Linked DNA regions of Homo sapiens. The protein of the gene in region 2 purifies or fractionates together with the protein of the main gene of each other region. This does not show direct contact. Each region holds a gene or a part of one and is shown on either strand. Other genes may lie near its edges.

Region 1 (3,500 bases), on a different chromosome or scaffold from region 2:
CTTCATTTTCTGGTTTGAAGGCAATGACATGCTTTCATTCTTTAATCAGGAACATGTGAACCGACTGGCATTCTGTATTCTGAATTCCTCCTGGGACATTAGTGATGTGTTTTTTTGTAACTTAGGAATTGTACCTAATTTATTTTTTAACCAAATAGCATATCTTCTTGAGATGGCTAGCTGAGAAAGAGTATGACACAAGTGTGATCAAGGATCAGCAAAATTAACTACCCATGCAAAGATTAAACCTGTTACCTTTACTTCCCTAATGTGGTATTTTAACTAGCTGAGCTAACCACCAATGGAGTGATGGTATGGCCTTTCCTGTACTCAATTCAGTAATTGAACAGTTATTTATCGAACCCTCTCCAGATGCCAGGCACCCTGCAGAAAGTAACATTCTGAAAAGGAACAGCCATGCCTGTAGCCCAAAAGTGAGTAGTTGTATTAATGGTCCATTCCTTATTAACAAATTAATTTCCTCAGGAGTTTATTGGACCAGATATCAAAGTCCCACTGGAATGTCTTAAGTGAGAGAGAGGATAAATCAAAGTTTTCCTTATCCAGGCTTTTTGGATGTCTTTTTCCTGAGCCTCCTCTTCCAAGCCTGTTTTGCTCTCAGTCAGGATTTACCAGCACTCTGCATGTGTAGGCACGCTCACCTGCTTCCTTCTGTAGTGGTAATGACAACCTACATTTGTATTCTGCAGTTGATAAAGCCTGTTCGTGGTACAATACCTCATTTGACCCTCCCAACAACTGTAGGGTAGATGTTATCTACATGAAATTGAGTCTCAGAGAGGGTAAGTAACTCACCCAGGTTACACAGTAAGTAACAGAGATGACACACGAGTTCAGCTTTTCTGGAGCTAAGTTCTCCTCTTCCTCCACCCATGCCCAGCCACTCATATCCTAGGTGTAGATCAGAAGGTTCTTAAAAATATTGTTAGACTGAGCTTTAAAAGCAGTTTGGATCAGAGATTTTCATTGTCTGTTTTGTGTTCACATGGCAGTCGAAAGTCTCTAGGTTCCATTGCATTATACCCTTCTTAGAGGCTCCAGAATAAATTTTTTTATAGTGGTGGGGAAAAGCCCTTATTCTTAGAATAAGAATATAGATCATTGGTAATAGTAATCAGTTCCATTTCTTATGAGATACTTGTCAGGATTAAATGACATAATGAATTTAAAGTATATTGCCTGTCATAGCAAGCACTCTGTTACTGTTAGCTATTATCATTTATGACTATTGCTCTATGTTGTTTTTTGTTTGTTTGAAGAATGGGCTCTTAACCTTGTACGAGAAAGAAAAGGGTGAGGAAGAAAATGGATTGAAGGAATTGTAGGAGACTAAATGTTAAAAGTCATTAAACTACCTTCTGGTTTATCTAGAAATCCAATTGAGTGATTTGTTAGTAGACATGAAACAAAGATAGCTATGATTTTAATGAGAAGCCTTCATATTCAGAAAAGCTGCGTGGGAATTTTTGATACATACAATAACAGTTTGAAAGTACTAGCAGAGTTTACTTAATGAATTCTACTTTGTATTATTTAATAAAAATGACCCTATAATATATATGTCATTTCTCCTATTTTATATCTGATATAAAATATCATCTATTTTATAACTGATCTGCCTATTTGGGGTGGAAGATTAAGAAATACAATTCTTATGTGTGTGTGCATTTTTAAAATTAATAAACTTAGCTCTAGGTGGATTATTTTATATTTACTTTTACTTTTTTTTTGTTTTTTTTTTTTTGAGACGGAGTCTCGCTCTGTCTCCCAGGCTGGAGTGCAGTGGCGCAATCTCGGCTCACTGCAAACTCCGCCTCCCGGGTTCACGCCATTCTCCTGCCTCAGCCTCCGGAGTAGCTGGGACTACAGGCGCCCGCCACTACGCCCGGCTAATTTTTTGTATTTTTAGTAGAGACGGGGTTTCACCATGTTAGCCAGGATGGTCTCAATTTCCTGACCTTGTGATCCGCCTGCCTTGGCCTCCCGAAATGCTGGGATTACTGGGATTACAGGCGTGAGCCACCGCGCCCTGCCTACTCTTACTTTTGAATATGTACGTTTTGTAATTGTTAATGAACTAGATTCTTAAATAGTGTTGACATTGTTGGGACTTTGGATAGCCACTCACTTTTTCAGACTAATAGGGCATAATTTACTTTATTGTTTTCTATTACCTGAGATTGTGTTTATATATTATAAGAAAATCATTTTGGAGAAAAAAGGAGCCAAGATGCATCCTTTTGTTCTATGGACTGTAGTGATCTAACAGTTGATGCCCTGCTGCCTTCATTTACCCTCATTCCAGGAAAGTGGGCTATAGCTGGTTTGAACTTAAATTTTGCGATAATGTAGTGTTCACTGCAAAATTCTCTGTACCAGCCACATTTTAAACAAAGTGGAGGCAGCAGTTAGATTTCGTTGCTTAGCCTTTTCCTGTGGCAGTAAGTGGGATCACAGACTGATAGAATTTTATAGCTGAAAGAGACTTTAGGTACATAGGTATCTTTATTTTATAGATCTTGAAACTTCCCCACGATCAATGGGCTTGCTGGTTAAAAAAGCTGGGAAAAGACCCAGATCTCCAATCAGCTGCCTGCTCTGGAGAAAACGAACTCAAACCTTAGCCACCTTAAATATACCTTTTTTAGAAGTACGCAATGTATAAACACAAGTGAATAACTTAAAGAATAGTCTGTTGAGATGAAACAGAATAGTCCATATTTTGGGTGTGTGGAAGGTAATGCATGTCAAGGTCTACGTCTTCAAGAATTGTAACTCTTGGGGGACCACTGCCAGTTTGCAAACAATTCCACTCCTGGAAAAGGTTTAAGAGAGTTTCTCTCCTTTATGGAGTGCATAGCTAATACTTTTCAAAATAAGTGGATTCTCAGTCGTTCTGGTGAATTTTTTTAAGTTTAAATATTAATATCTCCAACATTCAACTTTATATTTTCAGGGATCGATTTGCTTAGTGGTATAATACCTGAACTCTGTCAGAAATATCCAGATTTAAATTTCATAATTGGAGGAGAGGGACCAAAGAGAATCATTTTGGAAGAAGTTCGGGAAAGATACCAGCTGCATGACAGGTATTGATGAATTTCATGTTGTCTTGAGGGAGAAGATGTCAATTATCTCTATTTGGTTTTAACTGCATGCGTACCTTAGGTGTGTTGCTTCTCCTGCATGTAATTGATATACATATAATTGATATAAATCTAATGCAAGGACTGTTTTCAAAATTTTTATATAAATAGGAAACCTAGTTAATTCACTATTTTTTCCATTAGCCCAATATTATTTGACTTTGGGGGGCCATTGTTGGAGGCACCATGAAAGGCACAAAAAACAGCTGCTTTAACTGGAAGCGTTTGCAGATTTCCAGGCCATACTGTGTAGTGATTTAAGTAATAGGGCTCAAATCATGTAAATTGCTCTGCACATACAGATTTGGACAAGTCTCTTCCTCAGTAACTTAC
Region 2 (3,985 bases):
AGTCACTGATCTACTGCAAGTGAAGTCACCAAACCCAACCAGTTTAAAAGACAAGCTGGAATTAAGCATGTAGAAACATATAATAATATAATTATTAAAACTATTGTATAAAATAGATAAAAAGCTCCCTAACACATTCTATGATGCCAGTATAATAGTTTAATACCAAGGCCATAAAAGGCAAACACGCACTAGGTAAACAACATTAACTAGAAAAATCCTAAAACCATGTTGACACATCATATCTATCTGTGCACTAAAACAATAATACATTATGGTTAAATGTCATTTATATCAATAACTCAGTAATTTAGAAACTAAAGAATAAATGTATTATTTCAACAGCTATCAAAAATCACTTCAAAATATGAAAGAATAAAAAGAAAACTTTATTGATTCAAAAAAGGAATATTTACCCCAAATTGAGATCAACCATCATAGTTGAAGATGAAATGCTAGAAGCACTTCCACAAATGCAAGATTGACCAACTTGCTACTACTAATTTTAAGAGTATTCATTGGACATTGGAGATTCTAGTCACTGAAATTATAGAGGAACAATAATTTCTTATGTAATACTTAAATCAGGTGAAGGATGAAGGTTGGGTTTGGGGGAGGCATAAAGTGTTCCAAGAAATATCACAGGTAAAGAGTTAAGACCTGGAAAGTGGAATAATTGTTTAATTCACAAGAAATTGGGAAAAGGGTCAATTATTCTGCCATATTCACATTATTATTGTTAAATACTTTACAAATAAATAAAATGTCCCCAACCAATATTTGTTGACTTCAAGGAGGAGGTTTCATTTTCTCATATATATTTTTACTATCCATTTTTAAAATAGGAGATTTTCTTAGGATTTCGGTGGGGAGTCAGAGTTTAGTTTCATGCTCCTAGATTTAAGAAGACTATAAATTAATTCTTCTACGAATCCAGATTATCACAGGGGAAAACGACATCAGCTATTACTTACTAGCATTACTGTGACCATTTGAGGATAAAGATGGAATGAAACAGCAAAGATACCGGGGACAAATCATTCTTGTTGCAGAATTCCTTCAATCCGCCATCTTTTTGTTCTAGTCTTGATAACGGGAATAACATCCACAAAACGCAAGGTGGCGCTGCTGGCTAAAAAGAGAGAGAGAAAAATAATTTCACAAAGAAAGGATGTTACAGATTCCAGAGCAAAGAGGCAATCTGAAGAGAAAAGCATAGGAAAGGAAACAGTGGTAATAGGAATTGGGGTAAAATGAGGATCCTTCCCCACAAACATTGCTATTATTCAGCTCATTTCAAAGGATTCCGCTGCTGCCATTTGTGAGAGCCGCTGGAGGCTGAGTGAAAGTCATTTTGAAAGACTGATCCAAAGAAGAATGGAGGCCAGAGTGGAGCGTGCTGTGCAGAAAAGGCAAGTCTTATTTCTTTGTGTATTTCTGGGAATGTCTTGGGCTGGCGCCGAACCGCTTCGGTATTTTGTGGCGGAGGAAACCGAGAGAGGCACCTTTCTTACCAACTTGGCAAAAGACCTAGGGTTAGGGGTAGGGGAACTGAGAGCCCGGGGAACTAGAATTGTTTCAGACCAGAACATGCAAATTTTACTGCTCAGTTCGCTTACTGGTGATCTACTTCTAAATGAGAAATTGGACCGAGAGGAACTGTGTGGCCCCAGAGAGCCCTGTGTGCTGCCTTTCCAGTTGTTATTGGAAAAACCTTTTCAGATTTTCCGTGCTGAACTATGGGTCAGAGACATCAATGATCACGCTCCAGTATTTCTAGACAGAGAGATTTCCTTGAAAATATTAGAAAGTACCACTCCAGGGGCGGCATTTCTCCTAGAGAGTGCACAGGATTCAGATGTTGGAACCAACAGCCTGAGTAACTACACCATCAGCCCCAATGCCTATTTCCATATTAATGTCCATGATAGCGGGGAGGGGAATATCTATCCCGAATTGGTGCTGAATCAAGTGCTGGATCGGGAAGAGATACCAGAGTTCAGTTTAACCCTCACCGCTTTAGACGGCGGCTCTCCTCCAAGATCAGGGACCGCCCTCGTGCGCATTCTGGTTCTAGACGTAAATGACAACGCCCCTGATTTTGTGCGGTCGCTCTACAAGGTGCAGGTGCCCGAAAATAGCCCCGTTGGTTCCATGGTTGTCTCCGTGTCAGCCAGAGATTTAGATACCGGAAGTAATGGGGAAATAGCCTATGCATTTTCTTACGCCACTGAAAGAATTCTCAAAACGTTTCAAATCAATCCAACATCTGGCAGTCTTCATCTTAAAGCGCAATTGGACTATGAGGCAATTCAAACTTACACATTAACTATTCAGGCCAAAGACGGCGGCGGGCTTTCTGGAAAATGCACTGTAGTGGTTGATGTAACAGATATAAACGATAATCGACCCGAGCTGCTCCTGTCTTCACTTACTAGCCCAATTGCAGAAAACTCACCCGAGACAGTCGTGGCTGTTTTTAGGATTAGAGACAGAGATTCCGGGAACAATGGAAAGACAGTGTGCTCCATCCAGGACGATGTCCCCTTCATCCTGAAGCCATCTGTCGAAAACTTCTATACTCTGGTAACAGAGAAACCTTTGGATCGAGAGAGGAACACTGAGTACAACATCACCATCACCGTCACCGACTTGGGGACACCCAGGCTGAAAACCGAGCACAACATAACCGTGCTGGTCTCCGACGTCAATGACAACGCTCCCGCCTTCACCCAAACCTCCTACACCCTGTTTGTCCGTGAGAACAACAGCCCCGCCCTGCCCATCGGCAGTGTCAGCGCCACAGACAGAGACTCGGGCACCAACGCCCAGGTCATCTACTCCCTGCTGCCGTCCCAGGACCCGCACCTGCCCCTCGCCTCCCTGGTCTCCATCAACGCGGACAACGGCCACCTGTTTGCCCTCAGGTCCCTGGACTACGAGGCCCTGCAGGCGTTCGAGTTCCGCGTGGGCGCCACAGACCGCGGCTCCCCCGCGCTGAGCAGCGAGGCGCTGGTGCGCGTGCTGGTGCTGGACGCCAACGACAACTCGCCCTTCGTGCTGTACCCGCTGCAGAACAGCTCCGCGCCCTGCACCGAGCCGTTGCCCCGGGCGGCCGAGCCGGGCTACCTGGTGACCAAGGTGGTGGCGGTGGACGGCGACTCGGGCCAGAACGCCTGGCTGTCGTACCAGCTGCTCAAGGCCACGGAGCCCGGGCTATTCGGCGTGTGGGCGCACAATGGCGAGGTGCGTACCGCCAGGCTGCTGAGCGAGCGCGACGCAGCCAAGCAGAGGCTGGTGGTGCTGGTCAAGGACAATGGCGAGCCTCCGCGCTCGGCCACCGCCACGCTGCACGTGCTCCTGGTGGACGGCTTCTCCCAGCCCTACCTGCGGCTCCCGGAGGCGGCCCCGGACCAGGCCAACTCGCTCACCGTCTACCTGGTGGTGGCGTTGGCCTCGGTGTCTTCGCTCTTCCTCCTCTCGGTGCTCCTGTTCGTGGCGGTGCGGCTGTGCAGGAGGAGCAGGGCGGCCCCGGTGGGTCGCTGCTCGGTGCCTGAGGGCCCCTTTCCACGACATCTGGTGGACTTGAGCGGCACCGGGACCCTATCCCAGAGCTACCAGTATGAGGTGTGCCTGACTGGAGGCTCCGGGACAAATGAGTTCAAGTTTCTGAAACCAATTATCCCCAACCTGCTACCCCAGAGCACAGGCAGGGAAGTGGAAGAAAATCGCCCATTTCAGAATAATTTGGGTTTCTGATAAAGAATGTAAACTAAATCCGCGTCTGTGAATACGTTTCTGATTAGGAACTTATTGCGAGGTTCCCTTAAGGGAGTGTCTTTACATCATTTCAAATATGTACTCTTGAAGTCAAGCAATAAATTTCTATACATAAAATAGGATCCTGATTTAGTATCAAGAACCCTTCACAAAGCATGAAATGTATATGTGTAATGTTTTATGTCAAACAATTATGCTTAATATA
Region 3 (3,500 bases), on a different chromosome or scaffold from region 2:
ACTGCACTCCAGCCTGGGTGACAGAGCGAGACTCTGTCTCACCAAAAACAAAAAAACCATGCTGAGTGAAGAAAGCCAAAATGCCGTTCACAAGAGAATATGTACCATGTGCTTCCACCCCATTTATATGAAATTCTAGAACAGGCAGAACTGTAAAAGAGTACATCATGTTGCCTGGGCTGGGAGAGGGGAGATTTCCAGGTGATGAAAATATTCTTTACTTTGATTGACGTGGTGGTGAAGGGGGTATGTTCATTTGTCAAACTCATCAATTTATATACATAAAATGAATGCATTTATTGTATGTAAATTCAACCTCAATAAAGTATATTTGAAAAATTTTGCTGGGTGCGGTGGCTAACGCCTGTAATCCCAGCACTTTGGGAGGCTGAGGCAGGTGGATCACCTGAGGTCAGGAGTTCAAGACCAGCCTGGCCAACACGGTGAAACCCCGACTGTACTAAAAATGCAAAAAAATTAGCTGGGCGTGGCGGTGTGTGCCTGTAATCCCAGCTACTCAGGAGGCTGAGGCAGGAGAATCACTTGAGCCCCGGCGGAGGTTGCAGTGAGCAGAGATCACACCATTGCACTCCAGCCTGGGTGACAGAGTGAGTCTCTGTATCAAAAAAAAAAAAAATTTAAGGCCAGGCGAGGTGGTTTACACCTGTAATCCTAGCACTTTGGGAGGCCGAGGCAGGCTGATCACGTCAGCTCAGGAGTTCGAGACCAGCGTAGGCAATATGGGGAAACCCTGTCTCTATAAAAAGTTTAAAAATGGGCCAGGCGCGGTGGTTCACGCCTGTAATCCCAGCACTTTGGGAGGCCCACATGAGAAGATCACAAGGTCAGGAGTTTGAGACCAGCCTGGCGAGCATGGTGAGACCCCATCTCTACGAAAAATACAAAAAATTAGCTGGGCATGGTGGCATGCGCCTGTAGTCCCAGCTACTTGGGAGGCTGAGGCAGGAGGGCAAGGAGAATTGCTTGAACCCAGCAGGCAGAGGTTGCAATGAGCCAAGATCATGCCACTGTACTCCAGTCTGGGTGACAGAGCAAGACTCCATCTCAAAAAAAAAAAATGTTTAATAATTAGCCATGCATGGTGGTGTGTGCCTGTAACCCCAGCTACTCAGGAGGCTAAGGCAGGAGGATCATCTGAGCTCAGGAGGTGGAGGTTATAGTGAGCTGAGATTGTGCCATTGCACTCCAGCCTGGGTGACAGAGTGTGACCCTGTCTCAAAAAAAAAAAATTTTTTTTTTAAACAAGTTGCAGAGGGATTCTTAAAGTATTTTTCCATTTGTATCAAGTTGAAAACCAGGCAAAGCTAAGCATCTTTTTTAGGGTGACACGATAAAACAGTGAAGAAGTGTATGAGGACTATTGACAAGTTAAGGTTTGGGGTGCGGAGCATTCAATGAGGGATGGGCACACAAGACTTGAAAGTTAGTGGTAGGGCCGGGCGCGGTGGCTCACGCCTGTAATCCCAGCACTTTGGGAGGCCGAGGCGGGTGGATCATGAGGTCAGCAGATCGAGACCAACCTGGCTAACAAGGTGAAACCCCGTCTCTACTAAAAATACAAAAAATTAGCCAGGCGTGGTGGCGGGCGCCTGTAGTCCCAGCTACTCGGGAGGCTGAGGCAGGAGAATGGCGTGAACCCGGGAGGCGGAGCTTGCAGTGAGCTGAGATTGCGCCACTGCACTCCAGCCTGGGCGACAGAGCGAGACTCCGTCTCAAAAAAAAAAAAAAAGAAAGTTAGTGGTAATGTTCCATTGCATAAACTGGATATTGGTTATAGGTGTTCATTATTATGCTTTTTATAATTATTTAAAATGTACATCTATGTTACCTGTATTTTGTGTATCTTATGTTTCACAATGGGAGTTTGTAAAAAGTTACAACAAAAAATTTATTTCCTGGGGCTCTGGTAACCCTCTTAGGTAAGAGAGATTAATATGAAACTGAAAATAGTAGTTGCTGCTGGGTAACTGAGAGGTGCTACCTTTAGTATCTTTTTTTTTTTTTTTGGAGACGTCTCACTCTGTCACGCAGGCTGGAGTGCAGTGGCGCAATCTCGGCTCACTGCAAGCTCTGCCTCCCGGGTTCACGCCATTCTCCTGCCTCGGCCTCCCGAGTAGCTGGGACTACAGGACCCCGCCACAACGCCCGGCTAATTTTTTGTATTTTTAGTAGAGACAGGGTTTCACCGTGTTAGCCAGGATGGTCTCGATCTCCTGACCTTGTGATCCACCCACCTCGGCCTCCCAAAGTGTTGGGATTACAGGCGTGAGCCACAGCACCCGGCCCCTTTACTATCTTTAAAATTTGTATACCATGAATTTGACTTGGCTATTTTAAAAGAAATATGTGTTAATTTTTTTTTAAAGTAGCCTCTAGCTAGGTGCATACCTGTAATCCTAGCTGCTCAGAAGGCTGAGGCAAGAGAGGCTGGGCGCAGTAGCTCACACCTGTAATCCCAGCACTTTGGGAGGCCAAGGCAGGCGGATCACTTGAGGTCAGGAGTTTGAGACCAGCCTGGCCAACATGGTGAAACCCCATCTCTACTAAGAATAGAAAAATTAGCCAGACATGGTCGTACGCGCCTATAATCCCAGCTACTCTGGAGGCTGAGGCAGGAGAATTGCTTGAACCTGGGAGGCGGAGGTTGCAGTGAACTGAGATTGCGCCACTGCACTCCAGCCTGGGTGATAGAGCAAGACTCTGTCTCAAAAAAAAAAAAAAAAAATTGGAAATAATGTTGGTGCTGTATAGCTTGAAGGATTTCTGGCACAAGTTAAATGTTCTAGCTTAGAGATGTGCAGCTTGGAGAGGTTATTGGAAAACCCAATCCCGTTCTTTCCTAAATTCTTACCTCTTATCTGGTAATTTTATTAACTACATGAGCATGGTCTCTATTTCTGTTGTCTTAGTTATTCATTAACTCTGCCCCATTTTCACATTGGTGGAAAGCAGAGTGCAGGGTAAATGATTGTGTATTCTTTTTTTATGTGAACAGGACTTGAAAGAGGAGATTGATATTCGACTCTCCAGGGTTCAGGATATCAAGTATGAGCCCCAGCTCCTTGCAGATGATGATGCTAGACTACTACAACTGGAAACCCAGGGAAATCAAAGTATGTGGCAAGCTCTTGGAATGCTTCAGTGAGGAGTCCCACAAGTCCAGAATTCCTTTTCTCTCAGAGTTGTCAAAAGCTGCTGGCAAAGCCTTAGTTATTCCTGTTATTGGATATATGTTAGATGCAGAGCCCATTTATTAGCTTGCTGGAGTTTGGGGAATTTTTTTTTTCTTTTTTGAGATGGAGTTTCACTCTTGTTGCCCAGGCTGGAGTGCAATGGTGCAGTCTCAGCTCACTGCAACCTCCACCCCCTTGTTCAAGCAATTCTTCTACCTCAGCCTCCTGAGTAGCTGGGATTACAGGCATGCGCCACCACGCCTGGCTAATTTTGTGTTTTTACTAGAGACGGGGTTTCTCCATGTT
Region 4 (3,500 bases), on a different chromosome or scaffold from region 2:
AGGTTGCAGTGAGCCAAAATCCGCTCCAGCCTGGGTAACAGAGTGAGACTCTGTCACAGACACACACACACACACAAAAGACATAACTAAATATCCACGAAAGTAAATATTATAGTGTGAAAGTAATAAATGCAATTCTATTTTTCACAAAAATATCAATTTAAACATTTATAATAGAGTGAATTATTCTATCATAAAGGGTTCCAAGGAAAAAAATGTTTATTGACTCGGATACAGTTTTTTAACTTTAGATTTCAGGTCAGTATTTGGTGAAACTGAAGTGATATCTGAACTGAAAGTGAGATATTTCCTCTTTGATTAAGGGGAAACTCAACTAAAAACTCATTAATGCTTTGCTTGCTGGCATAGTCATTTATTGCCACTGGGAATATGTCTTATTTCTTCAGGCAAAGATGAAACAAAGAAGAGAAAGTAACTGAACCAGAATAGTATTTTCCTTTTTTTTTGAGACGGAGTTTTGCTCTTGTTGCCCAGGGTGGAGTGCAATGTCACGATCTCAGCTCATCTCAACCTCTGCCTCCCGGGTTCAAGTGATTCTCCTGCCTCAGCCTCCCAAGTAGCTGGGATTACAGGCATGTGCCACCACACCCAGCTAATTTTGTATTTTTAGTAGAGATGGGGTTTCTCCATGTTGGTCAGGCTGGTCTCGAACTCCCAACCTCAGGTGATCTGCCCGCCTCGGCCTCCCAAAAAAAACCCAAAAAGCCTTTTTATTGGGAAATAGTTTCAGGCTTACAGAAAGTTATAGAAATAGTACATAGAATTCCCAAATACCTTTTACCTAGATTCCTCAAATGTCAGCCCTATTTGCTTTATCATCTTCCATCTCTGTTTATATGTATATGTGTGTGTATACATATACATTCTTTTCCTGAGACACTTGAGAGCAATTTGCCAACTTGATGACCTTTTGCTTTTAAGCCCTTTTCTAGGCTGGGCCTGGTGGCTCATGCCTGTAATCCCAGCACTTTGGGAGGCTGAGGCTGGTGGATCACATGAGATCAGGAGTTTGAGACCAGCCTGGCCAACATGGTGAAAACTCATCTCTACTAAAAATACTAAAGTTAGCCAGGTGTGGTGGCGGGTGCCTGTAATCCCAGCTACTAGGGAGGCTGAGGCAGAAGAATCACTTGAGCCCGGGAGGCAGAGGTTGGAGTGAGCCAAGATTGCGGCACTGCACTCTAGCCTGGGTGACAGAGCAAGTCTCTGTCTCAAGAATGAATGAATGAATTAATAAATAAATAAATATTTCAGTCCTTCCCCTACAAGGACATTTTCTTATCTACAGTACAGTTGTCAAAACCAAGACATTTACATTGCTACAATATTGTTATTGAGTGTTTAAATTTTGCCGATTAATCCAGTAATTTTAATTTTAAGAATAATATTTAATGGTTCATTTTTGCTTGGTTATAGCCTCCATCCCTGTGAGATCACTGCCCTGAGCCAATCCCTACAGCCCTTACGGAAGCTGCCTTTTAGAGCCTTTCGCACAGGTAAGGAGCAATTAGAGATGGTGGTGACCCTCTCTCTGCCTCAGTTTGGTCATCTGTAAATTGGGATAAACATAGGGTTGTTGTTAGAGTTAAATGAGTTAGTATGTGGAAAGTACCTGGCATGCAGTTATCACTGAAGCGTTAGGTTTTCTTTTTCTTTTTTTTTTTTTTTGAGACAGTCTTGCTCTGTCGCCCAGGCTGGAATGCAATGATGCAATCTCGGCTTACTAAACCTCCACCTCCTGGGTTTAAGCAATTCTCATTCTCCAAGTAGCTGGGACACAGATGTGCACCACCACGCCTGGCTAATTTTTATTGTTAATTTTTGTTGTTTTTTTAATATTTCAAAGACTGTGTGCATACTGGCTAATTTGTGTATTTTTAGTAGAGATGAAGTTTTGCTATGATGCCCAGGCTGGTCTCAAACTCCTGGCCTCAAGTGATCTGCCGACCTTGGCCTCCCAAAGTGTTGGCATTACAGGCCTGAGCCACCGTGCCCGGCCTCATTATGTCTTTTTGATTATAGCCATTCCGATGGGTGTGAAGGGGTCTCATTGTGGTTTTGATTTGCATTTCCCTGATTACTAATAATGTTGTATTAGTTTGCTAGGGCTGCTGTAACAAAGCAACACAAACTGGGTTGCTTGAACAGCAGACATTTGCCTCATGATTCTAGGGCTAAATGTCTGAGATCAAGGTGTCAGGGTTGCTTCCTTTGGAGGGCTGTGAGGGAGAATCTGTTCCATGCCTCTTGCCTAGCTTCCAATGTTTTGCTGGCAATCTCTGGCATTCCTTACATATAGAAGCATCACTCCAATCTCTGCCTTCAGCTTCACCTGGTATTCTCCATGTGTGCATGTCTGTTTCTAGATTTTCCCTTTTTATAAGGACACCCATCATATTGGATTTGGACACACCTTGGCAACCTCATTTTATTTTATTTATTTATTTACTTATTTATTTTTTTGAGATGGAGTCTCGCTCTGTCGCCCAGGCTGAGTGCAGTGGTGGGATCTCGGCTCACTGCAAGCTCCGCATCCTGGGTTCATGTCATTCTCCTGCCTCAGCCTCCCGAGTAGCTGGGGCTACAGGCACCCACCACCATGCCTGGCTAATTTTTTGTATTTTTAGTAGAGACGGGGTTTCACCGTGTTAGCCAGGATGGTCCCGATCTCCTGACCTCGTGATCCGCCTGCCTCGGCCTCCCAAAGTCCTGGGATTACAGGCCTGAGCCACCATGCCCAGCCTGCAACCTCATTTTAACTTGATAATCTCTGTAAAGACCCTCTCTCCAGCCAACTAAGGGCACCTTCTAAGGTACTCAGGGTTAGAACTTCAACATAAGAGTTTTGGGGGAGTTTTCAGCAATTTAACGCATAACAGATATTTAGCCTCTGTCTTTTCTTGTGCTTATTGGCCAATGTATTTTTCCTTTGGACAAAGGTCTATTCAAATCCTTTGCACATTTTGATTGATTGATTGAGAGAGTCTCACTCTGTTGCCCAGGCTGGAGTGCAGTGGCGTGATCATAGCTCACTGTAACCTTGAACTCCTGGGTTCAAGCAATCCTCCCACCTCAGCCTACCTAGTAGCTGGGACTATAGGTGCAAGCCGCTGTGCCTGGCTATTTGTCTTTTTATTGTTGACCTGTAAGAGTTTATGAGATTTTGCATTTGAGAGAGAATACCAGTGCCTGATCAAAATTGGGCCTGCATTATAAAAGCAAGATCAAAGAGCCCTGGGTGAGAAATGGTGTTTGGCTTCAAGTTCTGGACCTGTTGGTGACCACCTGGGCAACCTTGATTAGTTTCTTGACCTCTTTGCGATTCAGTGTTTTCATCTATTAATACATTTTGTGACTGCGGTGGCAGTTGAGGTGCATTGTAATTCTATAGGAAAGATGCCTGTCCTGTACGTACTGACAGAATTTGGAGACAGGAGGGTCTGAGTAGTGGCCCAAGGTTGCACCTGCCTGCTAGATAT
Region 5 (3,500 bases), on a different chromosome or scaffold from region 2:
GAGGTTGCAGTGAGCCAAGATTGCGCCACTGTATTCCAGTCTGGGCAACAGAGTGAGACTGTCTCAAAAAAAAAAAAAAAAAAAAAAAACATTGTCAATATAATGTTGAATTTTAAAAAGTCACTCTGCCAGAAAAAAAAAAATGCCTTGAAATGCAATCCATTTTTCTACCATGTAGTGATGGTAAGTAGATAGTGTCTCCTTTTTGTTCGAGTTTGGTGGATAGTTTGCTTTAGTGGAATGGGTCATTAATAACTATGTAAGCATTTACTTCACTGATCTCCAAAAAGGGGGGCATCAACTTATTGACAGTATATTTGAATTTAATGAATTGAGTGATCCGTATCTCAAAATCTTTCAAAGTAAATTCACAGAAAACTGACAAAATCATTTGTAAAGTCAAGTGTAATATGTTGTATTTATTTACTTTTTCATACTTTTTTCCTTTCTATTACATTGGAAAATATTTTAAAATAGCTACTAAAATTCCTTGATGGTTATAATAGTGACAGTTTTACTTACTAATGTTGATAGGAAATCTAACCTTTAATATTTGGGGAGAATAGACAATGGCATTGTGCATTACTCTAGCTATGCTGGAATAATCTTGTAATAGCTAATTTTTAACCTGTTGTGCTTTTTCTTGTACTGTTGCTCATATCTCTATATCTCGTCATATCTCTGTATAAGTTGAATTGCAAGATCATTGTCTTAGAGATGAATAATTATGTCATTTAAAAAATAGTCATTTATCTTCAGTAAGTGCTTAGTGCATACTACCTAGTGTTGCGGTGGGTATAGTAAACGTGATAAAAATGGTTATAAACTAGTTCATGCTATTATAGGGTTAGTCTTTCTAGGGAAAACAAAGAACACATAAAGCTTATTTTAGTGGCATTGGAAATATTTAAGCCCTTCAGTTTTGTGAGAAACTGGAACAGGAGAGATCAATATCTCTGCTCTGCTAAGGCAAACACCTGATTACTGTGGTACCGTATGTAATGCATTGTGACCTTAGCTTTTTTTTTTTTCCTCTCTCGTTGCCCAGGCTGGAGTGCAGGTGCATGATCTCGGCTCACTGCAACCTCCGCCTCCCAGGTTCAAGCAGTTCTCCTGCCTCAGCCTCCCACAGGCGTGTGCCACAATGCCCAGCTAATTTTTTTATTTTTAGTAGAGATGGGGTTTTGCCATGTTGGGCAGGCTGGTCTTGAACTTCTGACTTCAGGTGCTCTGTCTGCCTCGGCCTCCCAAAGTGCTGGGATTACAGGCATGAGCCACCACATTAGCTTTCTTAGCACACCTAAGTGTACTCCACCTAAATACCCAGTTTAGTGCTGATTTTACTTCTTGCACATTGGATTTCCTCCAGCTGCTTTGAATTATTTTAATTTCAGCTTTTAAAACACTTTAGATGGAGAATAATGTATTGATACATTACATCTTTGCTCTAGAAATTTGATTTATTCATTGAGGGGAGAATAGTCATTTTGAGGAGGCTATAATTTTTGTTTGTTTGTTTGTTTGTTTGTTTTGAGACGGAGTCTCACTCTTGCCCAGGCTGGAGTGCGGTGGCGCTATATTGGCTCACTGCAACCTCCACCTCCCGGGTTCAAGCAGTTCTCCTGCCTCAGCCTCCCAAGTAGCTAAGATTGTAGGCGTATGCCACCACACCCGGCTAATTTTCACATATTTAGTACAGACAGGGTTTCACCATGTTGGCCAGGCTGGTCTCCAACTCCTGGATTCTAGTGATCCCCCCGCCTCAGCCTCCCAAAATGCTGGGATTACAGGTGTGATTCACACCCTGCCGGGAGGCTATAAATTCAAATCAGTAATGTACAAGTATATTGGCTATCCCAAAAAGCCACAGTTTCTTCCTGGAAATAGCCAAAGCAGATCATTATAAAGTAGATTGTGTTGAAGGAGCATGCCTGATCAAATACTAAACGTTGACTTACAAGTATTACTAACAATCTATCATATGAGCAGGGTGGGGCTAATAAAACACTGTTTGCTAAGTATTCATTAGGCACTGTGTGGGCATTTCCATGCAGTTGCAATCTCAATAGTTAAAACTCCTATGTGGGAGAGGTTGGTATCTCAGTTTTACAGATGTGGAAATATGCGATTTACGGAGGATTAGTGATATAAAGTCCTAAATGTAAAAGGTCCTGGACTTCCAGAGCTCATGCTCTATTATTTCTTCAGAGATAAACCAACTGTTACTCTAAATCAGGGGTCTGCAAACTAGCTGCTGTTAGGCCCCTGCATTAAGAATGGTTTTTACATTCTTAAACTTTATATTTGACGTTGTTAAAAGAAGTACTGGTGGTGGTGGTGGTGGTGGTAATGGTGGTGACAGTGGTGGTGGTGGTAGTGGTGGTGGTAGTGACAGACCTTATGTACCCACAAATACTATCTGGCCTTTTACAGAAAAGATTCACTGATCCCTGCTCTAAACTTTAAAAAAAAACCCTAAAAATACACCCCCCTCAACAGTTACAATGTTTACCAAAAAAGAAGCTATATATGTGTACATTGAAAGTACTTTTAAGTCTTTGAGGGTCCTGTCCTTTGGAAACCTGCAGAAAATTTCTGCAGAAAACAAATTTTCTGCATAAAAATATTTCATTTAAGTTCATAGTTCCCTTGAAGCTTTTTTAGGGTCCTTAGACTTTAGGTTGAAAAATAAACACAAACAGAAGTATACAACTTTGTTACCGTAAACATAACTAAAACTAACATGCTGAAATCAATATTAACCACTTCATTATTTTGCTTACCTTCTTAAAATGTATATAGGATTCATATGGCTCAGGCGTTTCTAAAAATGCTGGAGGAGGGGGTAATCCCTCTCTCTATCCTATGAAGTGTATGTCTTTTTGATTCTTTTTTTTTTCCTCTTAAGATTTCATATAGCAGGCTGAGGGACTCTAGATCAATAGTTCAGTAAGAATATATGAAATTTCAAGTTAGAGTTCTTATTACTAAATACCTTGTTTAAAAGTTAAATACTGACTCAACATTTCTTCCCATGATATTCTCTGTTTTCTCAGAACAGTGTCACCAGGAAACAAGTATTATTAAATGACTTTGTTCTTACCTCAGAGTCATAGGACGTACTGACACTTTTTTGGCATGGCATCAGAGCACATCACACTTAATTGGAAAGTTTTAAAGCCAACTACCTGGTCATTAGCAGGTGTTTTACAGAGTAGTTTCAAAATCTCTCTTGCCAAATTGCTAAGACTGGCATAAAACTGTACACTTCCTGTATTTGTACTAGGGAAAAATGTGATATGCACGTTAATTATTTACCTTTAGATGAGCAGTACTAATTTTACTAGATATATATCAGATATTTTCTAGGTGACACATTATATTCTTTTCCCTTTCAAATGAGCGACAAACTCACTTTAAAAATTCAAGCTGTTAGAAAATATGTAGTATCAAAGTGAAAATCTTCTGTAATATCTTTTCTTAAAACTATTGTTAAATTC
Region 6 (3,187 bases), on a different chromosome or scaffold from region 2:
AGAAGGCCAAGATTTTATGTAATGCCAAGTATAGTGGAGAGCTATTACCTAATATATTAGACAGACATTTATTCAGGCCAGGGCACACTATATTGTCTAGGCATTTTATATATATATATGTGTGTGTGTGTGTGTGTGTGTGTGTGTATATACGTATATATGTATATATATATTTATATATATTTATATATTTATATTTATATATATTTATATATTTATATATTTTATTTTCTTGTATTAGGTTGTGATAATCCAGCTAGAGAAGTTTCATAAAACTCAAATCTAAAATCTTTCTTTTGCTGAAGAAAATATTTTCTGACTAGTTGATTCTGCCACACACGTCACAGCTAGCCTGCTCCCACATCCAAAACATATTCTAAGAAGGAAGCAGCTTAGCTGTCAGAATTTTTTTTAATGCCAGGTTATCATTGCTAAGCAATTCCCTATCCTTACAAGGACAGGCAGTGAAGAGGAGGATTCAGTCCAAAGACAACTCCCAATTTGTAGGTTGTTAAATACCTGTAGGTTTCTTTTAATCATAAAGAAGGAAAATGAAAGACTTGAGGATCACCTACATAGAGCGAAAACAGAAAAAAACCCCGAATCCCATTGCTTTGGCACTAGTATCTTTGGCTGATCTGAGATTACATGAGACACCAAAAATAAAAACACTGAACTTTGGTTTGATGAAATAGATAATTCAGGTTGTCATTTATAATTTTAGAGTTTGCTTCACATATACAATGCTGTGTTACGAAACAATGAACACTTTTATAAAAAATTTATTTCACACTTTTATACAAATATCCACAGGTAATTTCTAATCATGAAATAATTTTACAATGCTAGTTAGTACAAAAATGTATCAAATGCAAACAGACCAGTGACTTGACTTGAGATGACATTTTTAACAACCATAAATCTAAACACCATAACATCTTTGTTTCTTTGTTGAACCACCCTCCCAACACCCTTTTCAGGACATTCATCTTTTTTTTAGTAACACAGGTCTAAAAACACTGTCAAAGTATCAGCTCCTTAGCAATCTAGCAATCTAAACACATTAGGGACACAAGTTCCCCAAGCAAGAAACTGAGACTTTAAACACTGTTATAACCTGTTTTACAGAAATTTTTGTAAACAAAATATATTTTGTGACTAAGAATTCCAAAGTACAACCAAAACAACGTCCTTAGTATCTTAAGGTTTAAGATTTCCGAAAAGAAAAAAGCCCCCCCAAAACAACAGTGGCACTACAAACTGTGTTCTATTCTTTCAAAACACAGACACTGCTTATACTATATCCAAAACAAATTAGCACCTGTTTGCTGTTGCTCCCCATATAACTTAACATTGTGAAGCATGGTAATTAAAAAAAATCAGCTTTCATATCTATTCAGTCTCTGTTGAATGTATAGAGTAATAATTCCACCCCCTGCCATTTTTACAATTAAAACACAATTTAAAGTTCTTGTTAAATTAGCCCCAAAGTAATTTTTGGGAATACAGATAGGGGAGGAAACAAAACAAAAAATAGAACATCGACTCACTGATTAACTGTTTTGGTAGCAGATTCAGTAGTCTTATACTGGATCAGTTTGGATCCACCATAGGCATTCACCATTTCTTTCAAGTCCTGAATATACAGTATTTGCAGCAGTGAGTAAACCGCACTAGAGTTCAGTGAATAAACCCATTTTCTCCAAGAATTCCTGAATGTTACAGTATGAAATCCAGAAACATTATGCAGGCTTCTAAAGTAAAAAATATCCAATGCCTGAAATAAACATCTTTACAGTTATAATTCTATTTCTTAAACCTTTTGGGTTGTGGGGTGGAGGCTGTCATGAAGGAGAGGTTATAGTTTATAGATAAGTTATTAAAACAACTCTCTCTGGTACATTTATAAAGATTTTCTTTTTGCAGTAAATAATTTAGGTCAAAGTGATGACCTCCCATGCTCTAATTCTGATTGATTAAACCAACCTGAAGGGTAAACTGGAGACTCTTTGGCCTGTTAGTCAATAACAAAATGGTTTGTAAAGAAAAGAAAAAATAAATACCATATACAAATAAGTATAACTAGCATTCAAGTCTGTTGCACCTGTGTGTTTTAGTGAAAGGGAGAATGAAACTTGTATGCATTTGACGTGAGCAGGTATTCACACAGCTAGGAAACAGGAAAAGACGGTAGGATGGCAACATCACCTTCTATTGCACATTTAGTTTAAGACAGCACTTTCCGTTGAAACACAACTACCCCAATGGCATAGTCTTGTGATGTGGGACAGCTAACGTGATGGACGTCTGCGCAGCAGGCCCGAGGTTAGGACGGCCACTCTGTTAGTGCAGGTGAGTGTAGGTGCCTCCTCAGCTACACTATCTGGAGGATGTCACCTGAGTGCAACTGGGCAGGCCCTTCCCCAACACATGATGTAAGTCAGCCACGCCAAAAATAAAGGCAACCCAGAAAGTTAAATTACGGCAGTTAAAGAAAAATCCATTCCAACAGTTTTAAATTTGGCTGTGCAAAACAGGAGCCTTAGGCTACGTAACAATATCCACAGTTAAAACTGTAGGTTCGTACTGTGTGTAGTCACTCTGAAATCAGTCCTCAGGGATTGAGCAGGCTTTTAAATCCAAATTGAATTTCTGAGTTGGAAAAAGCAGTTTGGGTACTGTGAAGCTTTTTTTTTTTAGGCCCCCGCTATGAGTAGCTTTCATTTTCGTTCCACTTTGTGATCCACTGTTTTTTTTCAAGGTTATCAATATACTTTTCATCTTTGATCTCTCGCTCTTCTTTCCGGATCCTTACAGCATGGTATCGGGGAACACTGTCATCGTACCTAGAGCGTTTAAAGAATCCACACTAGAGAAGAGGGAAAGAGAAAGAGAAACAAATTAATCTCACAAAGAAGCAAATACACTAAATGGGAATGTCTAAGCTTTCTGTTCAGCTATGTCTACCTCTGGACTAAGGGGAAAAAGACATGGTTTTCTTTTAAGAAAGAACCAAGAGGCTGAAATGAAAGAAGAGCCAGTGGGGATCAACGGAAGAGAACAGCTGTAAAACTGGAAGAAAAGTCCATTTTCATCTTCTCTTTACATTTTATAACAAATGTAGGCTACCTCTTTACTAACAATTTAAGAGTTTATGAAAACAGTGCTTCCATATTTAAAAATAATC
Region 7 (2,191 bases), on a different chromosome or scaffold from region 2:
GGAATCCAGGTTCTCATCATGCTGCCTCCGATGCATGATCCGAATGAACTTGAGCTGGGCCAGTCCACGTGCAAGGGGCAGCAGTGTACTCCTTTGACCAAATCCACGCACAGCGGGAGGCATCCCCCATCCTCAATCTCAGAGGCCTCTGCTTTGTTCCAGTGGAGGATGCTGGCGCTGAGAAGTGATGACTCGGAACACAAGTACAGCTCCAGCCCACTGGAGTGGGTCACCCTGGACACCAATATTGCCTACTGGCTGCACCCCAGGACCAGCGTAAGCGAGCGATGCTGACAGCTGACAGTCATAGATTCATCCTGTTTCTTGAGAATTCCTTGCATTAAGAGCAGCCGCTGCACCCTAGAAAGTGCTGGGTTTCTCCCAAGCTTTTCCTGACAAAGGCCTGTGACTTGGTTTTCTCTAAACGCTTTGGCAACCTGGAGCCAGGAGTAGGGGTGTGGCATGTGTGCCTGTTGAAGGAAACCCGGCTTGATTGCTTTTGTGGAGACACATTGTTCCCCTTTTCCTGGCGAAAGTGGTTTTAAGATATTCCCATTCAATTTTCCGTGTGGCACCTGGTGGTGGAGCTTACCGGTGCTTTGCTGATGTGCGTGCCGTCTCTCCACCCGGCAGAGTGAAAGCATTGGTAGGCCGGGCGCACAGTCAGCGCCCCATAAATATTCACTGAATGGGCAGACGCTGGAAATGCCCACCTTTTTCCTCCTCCCTCAGAGGCGGGTAGGTCGGCTCAGCATGTGCACTGAAGGCAGAGGCTCAGGCCCAGAGGCCGCCCCACCCCGAGCTCTGAGCGCACTTTGCATTCTCCTCCGTGGACAGCGCTGCTGTTACAAAGTGGAGTCATCTGCTCCCAATTTTCAGTTTCCAATTACAAAATTGAGAGCATCAGTGCTGTGTGTGTGTGTGTATGTGAGAGAGAAAGAGAGAGACGGAGTCTTGCTCTGTCATCCAGGCTGGAGTACAGTGGCGTGATCTTGGCTCACTGCAACCTCCACCTCCCAGGTTCAAGCAGTTCTCCTGCCTCAGCCTCCAAGTAGCTGGTATTACAGGTGCCCACCGCAATGCCCAGCTAATTTTTGTACTTTTTAATAGAGACGGGGTTTCGCCACGTTGGGCAGGCTGGTCTCAAACTCCTGACTTCAGGTGATCTGCCCACCTCAGCTTCCCAAAGTGCTGGGATTACAGGCATGTGCCACCACACCCGGCTGGCATCAGTGCTTTTAATGAAAGGTCTGAGTAGGAGCAGACCTGTCCACAGTAGTAGTAAGGCCTAGTGGATGCTAGGCTGTGCCTGGCGTTTTTTCACTCTGCTAAAGTAGTGCGTGCATCTGAATTCCTTTCCTGTGTTCTCTTCTCTTCCCTCCCTGAGCAGAGGGCAGGTGGCTAACAGCATCTCCCATGTTCCCTTAGGCTCAGATCCACCTACTTGGAAACATAGTGATCTGGGTTTCGGGCAGCCTCGCTCTGGCCATCTACGCCCTGCTGTCCTTGTGGTACCTGCTCCGACGGCGAAGAAATGTCCATGACCTCCCTCAGGGTTAGTACCTCTCCCACATGGCTTTCTTTCTTTTTAATATAGACATGGGGTCTTGCTGTGTTGTCCAGGGTGTTCTTGAACTCCTGGGCTTAAGCGATCCTCCTGCCTCGGCCTCCCATAGTGCTAGGATTACAGGTGTGCGCTGAGCATTCACCGCCTCAAGTGACAAACCGACTTCATAGGAACCTACCCCTTAACGCGGCCTCTTTGTTTCTGTATTGTGGAATCTTAAATTATGTTTGTCTCCCAAGAGACAAAATGTTAAGTTCCCATGTTGCGTTAGAGGTGTCTCCAGTCGAGTGCAGCGTATTGGGCAGGAATTGCCCTCTTGGTCCCATGTTGCCCGTATGCGCTGGAAATGGCTGGGTAACACAGGCAGCCAGGCCGGGCGCGGTGGCTTACACCTGTAATCCCAGCACTTTGGGAGGCCAAAGTGAGGGAGTCACCTGAGGCCAGGAGTTCAAAACCAGCCTGGGCAACATAGTAAGAACCCTCTCTCTAAAAAAGCAAAAGAGAGAGAAGACCCGGCCTGTGGGAGCAGCAGAGTCGGTGTAGCTCGAGCCCTTTCCTATAGATGCCTGGCTGCGCTGGGTGCTGGCTGGGGCGCTGTGTGCCGGTGGCTGGGCAGTGAACTAC

Evidence for each region.
Region 1: the proteins of PCDHB7 (region 2) and PIGA purify together in Homo sapiens (affinity purification with mass spectrometry; 2 studies listed by BioGRID and IntAct, with this or other methods). This does not show direct contact.
Region 3: the proteins of PCDHB7 (region 2) and LTAP1 purify together in Homo sapiens (affinity purification with mass spectrometry; 2 studies listed by BioGRID and IntAct, with this or other methods). This does not show direct contact.
Region 4: the proteins of PCDHB7 (region 2) and PISD purify together in Homo sapiens (affinity purification with mass spectrometry; one large-scale study listed by BioGRID and IntAct). This does not show direct contact.
Region 5: the proteins of PCDHB7 (region 2) and PDZD8 purify together in Homo sapiens (affinity purification with mass spectrometry; 2 studies listed by BioGRID and IntAct, with this or other methods). This does not show direct contact.
Region 6: the proteins of PCDHB7 (region 2) and ITGA6 purify together in Homo sapiens (affinity purification with mass spectrometry; one large-scale study listed by BioGRID and IntAct). This does not show direct contact.
Region 7: the proteins of PCDHB7 (region 2) and POMT1 purify together in Homo sapiens (affinity purification with mass spectrometry; 2 studies listed by BioGRID and IntAct, with this or other methods). This does not show direct contact.

The regions. Positions count from the first base shown.
Region 1 is NC_000023.11:15,325,524-15,329,023, reverse strand, and holds part of PIGA (phosphatidylinositol N-acetylglucosaminyltransferase subunit A), read left to right. Parts: exon of another isoform or gene 1-710; coding exon of another isoform or gene 711-803; intron 804-2,977; coding exon 2,978-3,110; intron 3,111-3,500. UniProt on the Homo sapiens protein: Catalytic subunit of the glycosylphosphatidylinositol-N-acetylglucosaminyltransferase (GPI-GnT) complex that catalyzes the transfer of N-acetylglucosamine from UDP-N-acetylglucosamine to phosphatidylinositol and participates in the first step of GPI biosynthesis.
Region 2 is NC_000005.10:141,171,459-141,175,443, forward strand, and holds the start of PCDHB7 (protocadherin beta-7 precursor), read left to right. Parts: upstream 1-1,185; 5' UTR 1,186-1,377; coding exon 1,378-3,759; 3' UTR 3,760-3,985. UniProt on the Homo sapiens protein: Potential calcium-dependent cell-adhesion protein. May be involved in the establishment and maintenance of specific neuronal connections in the brain.
Region 3 is NC_000001.11:154,214,091-154,217,590, reverse strand, and holds part of LTAP1 (protein C1orf43), read left to right. Parts: intron 1-3,016; coding exon 3,017-3,134; intron 3,135-3,500. UniProt on the Homo sapiens protein: General regulator of phagocytosis. Required to uptake Gram negative bacterium by macrophages.
Region 4 is NC_000022.11:31,648,716-31,652,215, reverse strand, and holds part of PISD (phosphatidylserine decarboxylase proenzyme, mitochondrial), read left to right. Parts: intron 1-1,437; coding exon 1,438-1,517; intron 1,518-3,500. UniProt on the Homo sapiens protein: Catalyzes the formation of phosphatidylethanolamine (PtdEtn) from phosphatidylserine (PtdSer). Plays a central role in phospholipid metabolism and in the interorganelle trafficking of phosphatidylserine.
Region 5 is NC_000010.11:117,365,441-117,368,940, reverse strand, and holds part of PDZD8 (PDZ domain-containing protein 8), read left to right. Parts: intron 1-3,500. UniProt on the Homo sapiens protein: Molecular tethering protein that connects endoplasmic reticulum and mitochondria membranes. PDZD8-dependent endoplasmic reticulum-mitochondria membrane tethering is essential for endoplasmic reticulum-mitochondria Ca(2+) transfer.
Region 6 is NC_000002.12:172,503,773-172,506,959, reverse strand, and holds the end of ITGA6 (integrin alpha-6 isoform b preproprotein), read right to left. Parts: exon of another isoform or gene 2,870-3,187; coding exon of another isoform or gene 2,708-2,869; 3' UTR 501-2,707; downstream 1-500. UniProt on the Homo sapiens protein: Integrin alpha-6/beta-1 (ITGA6:ITGB1) is a receptor for laminin on platelets. Integrin alpha-6/beta-1 (ITGA6:ITGB1) is present in oocytes and is involved in sperm-egg fusion.
Region 7 is NC_000009.12:131,519,918-131,522,108, forward strand, and holds part of POMT1 (protein O-mannosyl-transferase 1), read left to right. Parts: intron 1-162; coding exon 163-276; intron 277-1,428; coding exon 1,429-1,555; intron 1,556-2,129; coding exon 2,130-2,191. UniProt on the Homo sapiens protein: Transfers mannosyl residues to the hydroxyl group of serine or threonine residues. Coexpression of both POMT1 and POMT2 is necessary for enzyme activity, expression of either POMT1 or POMT2 alone is insufficient.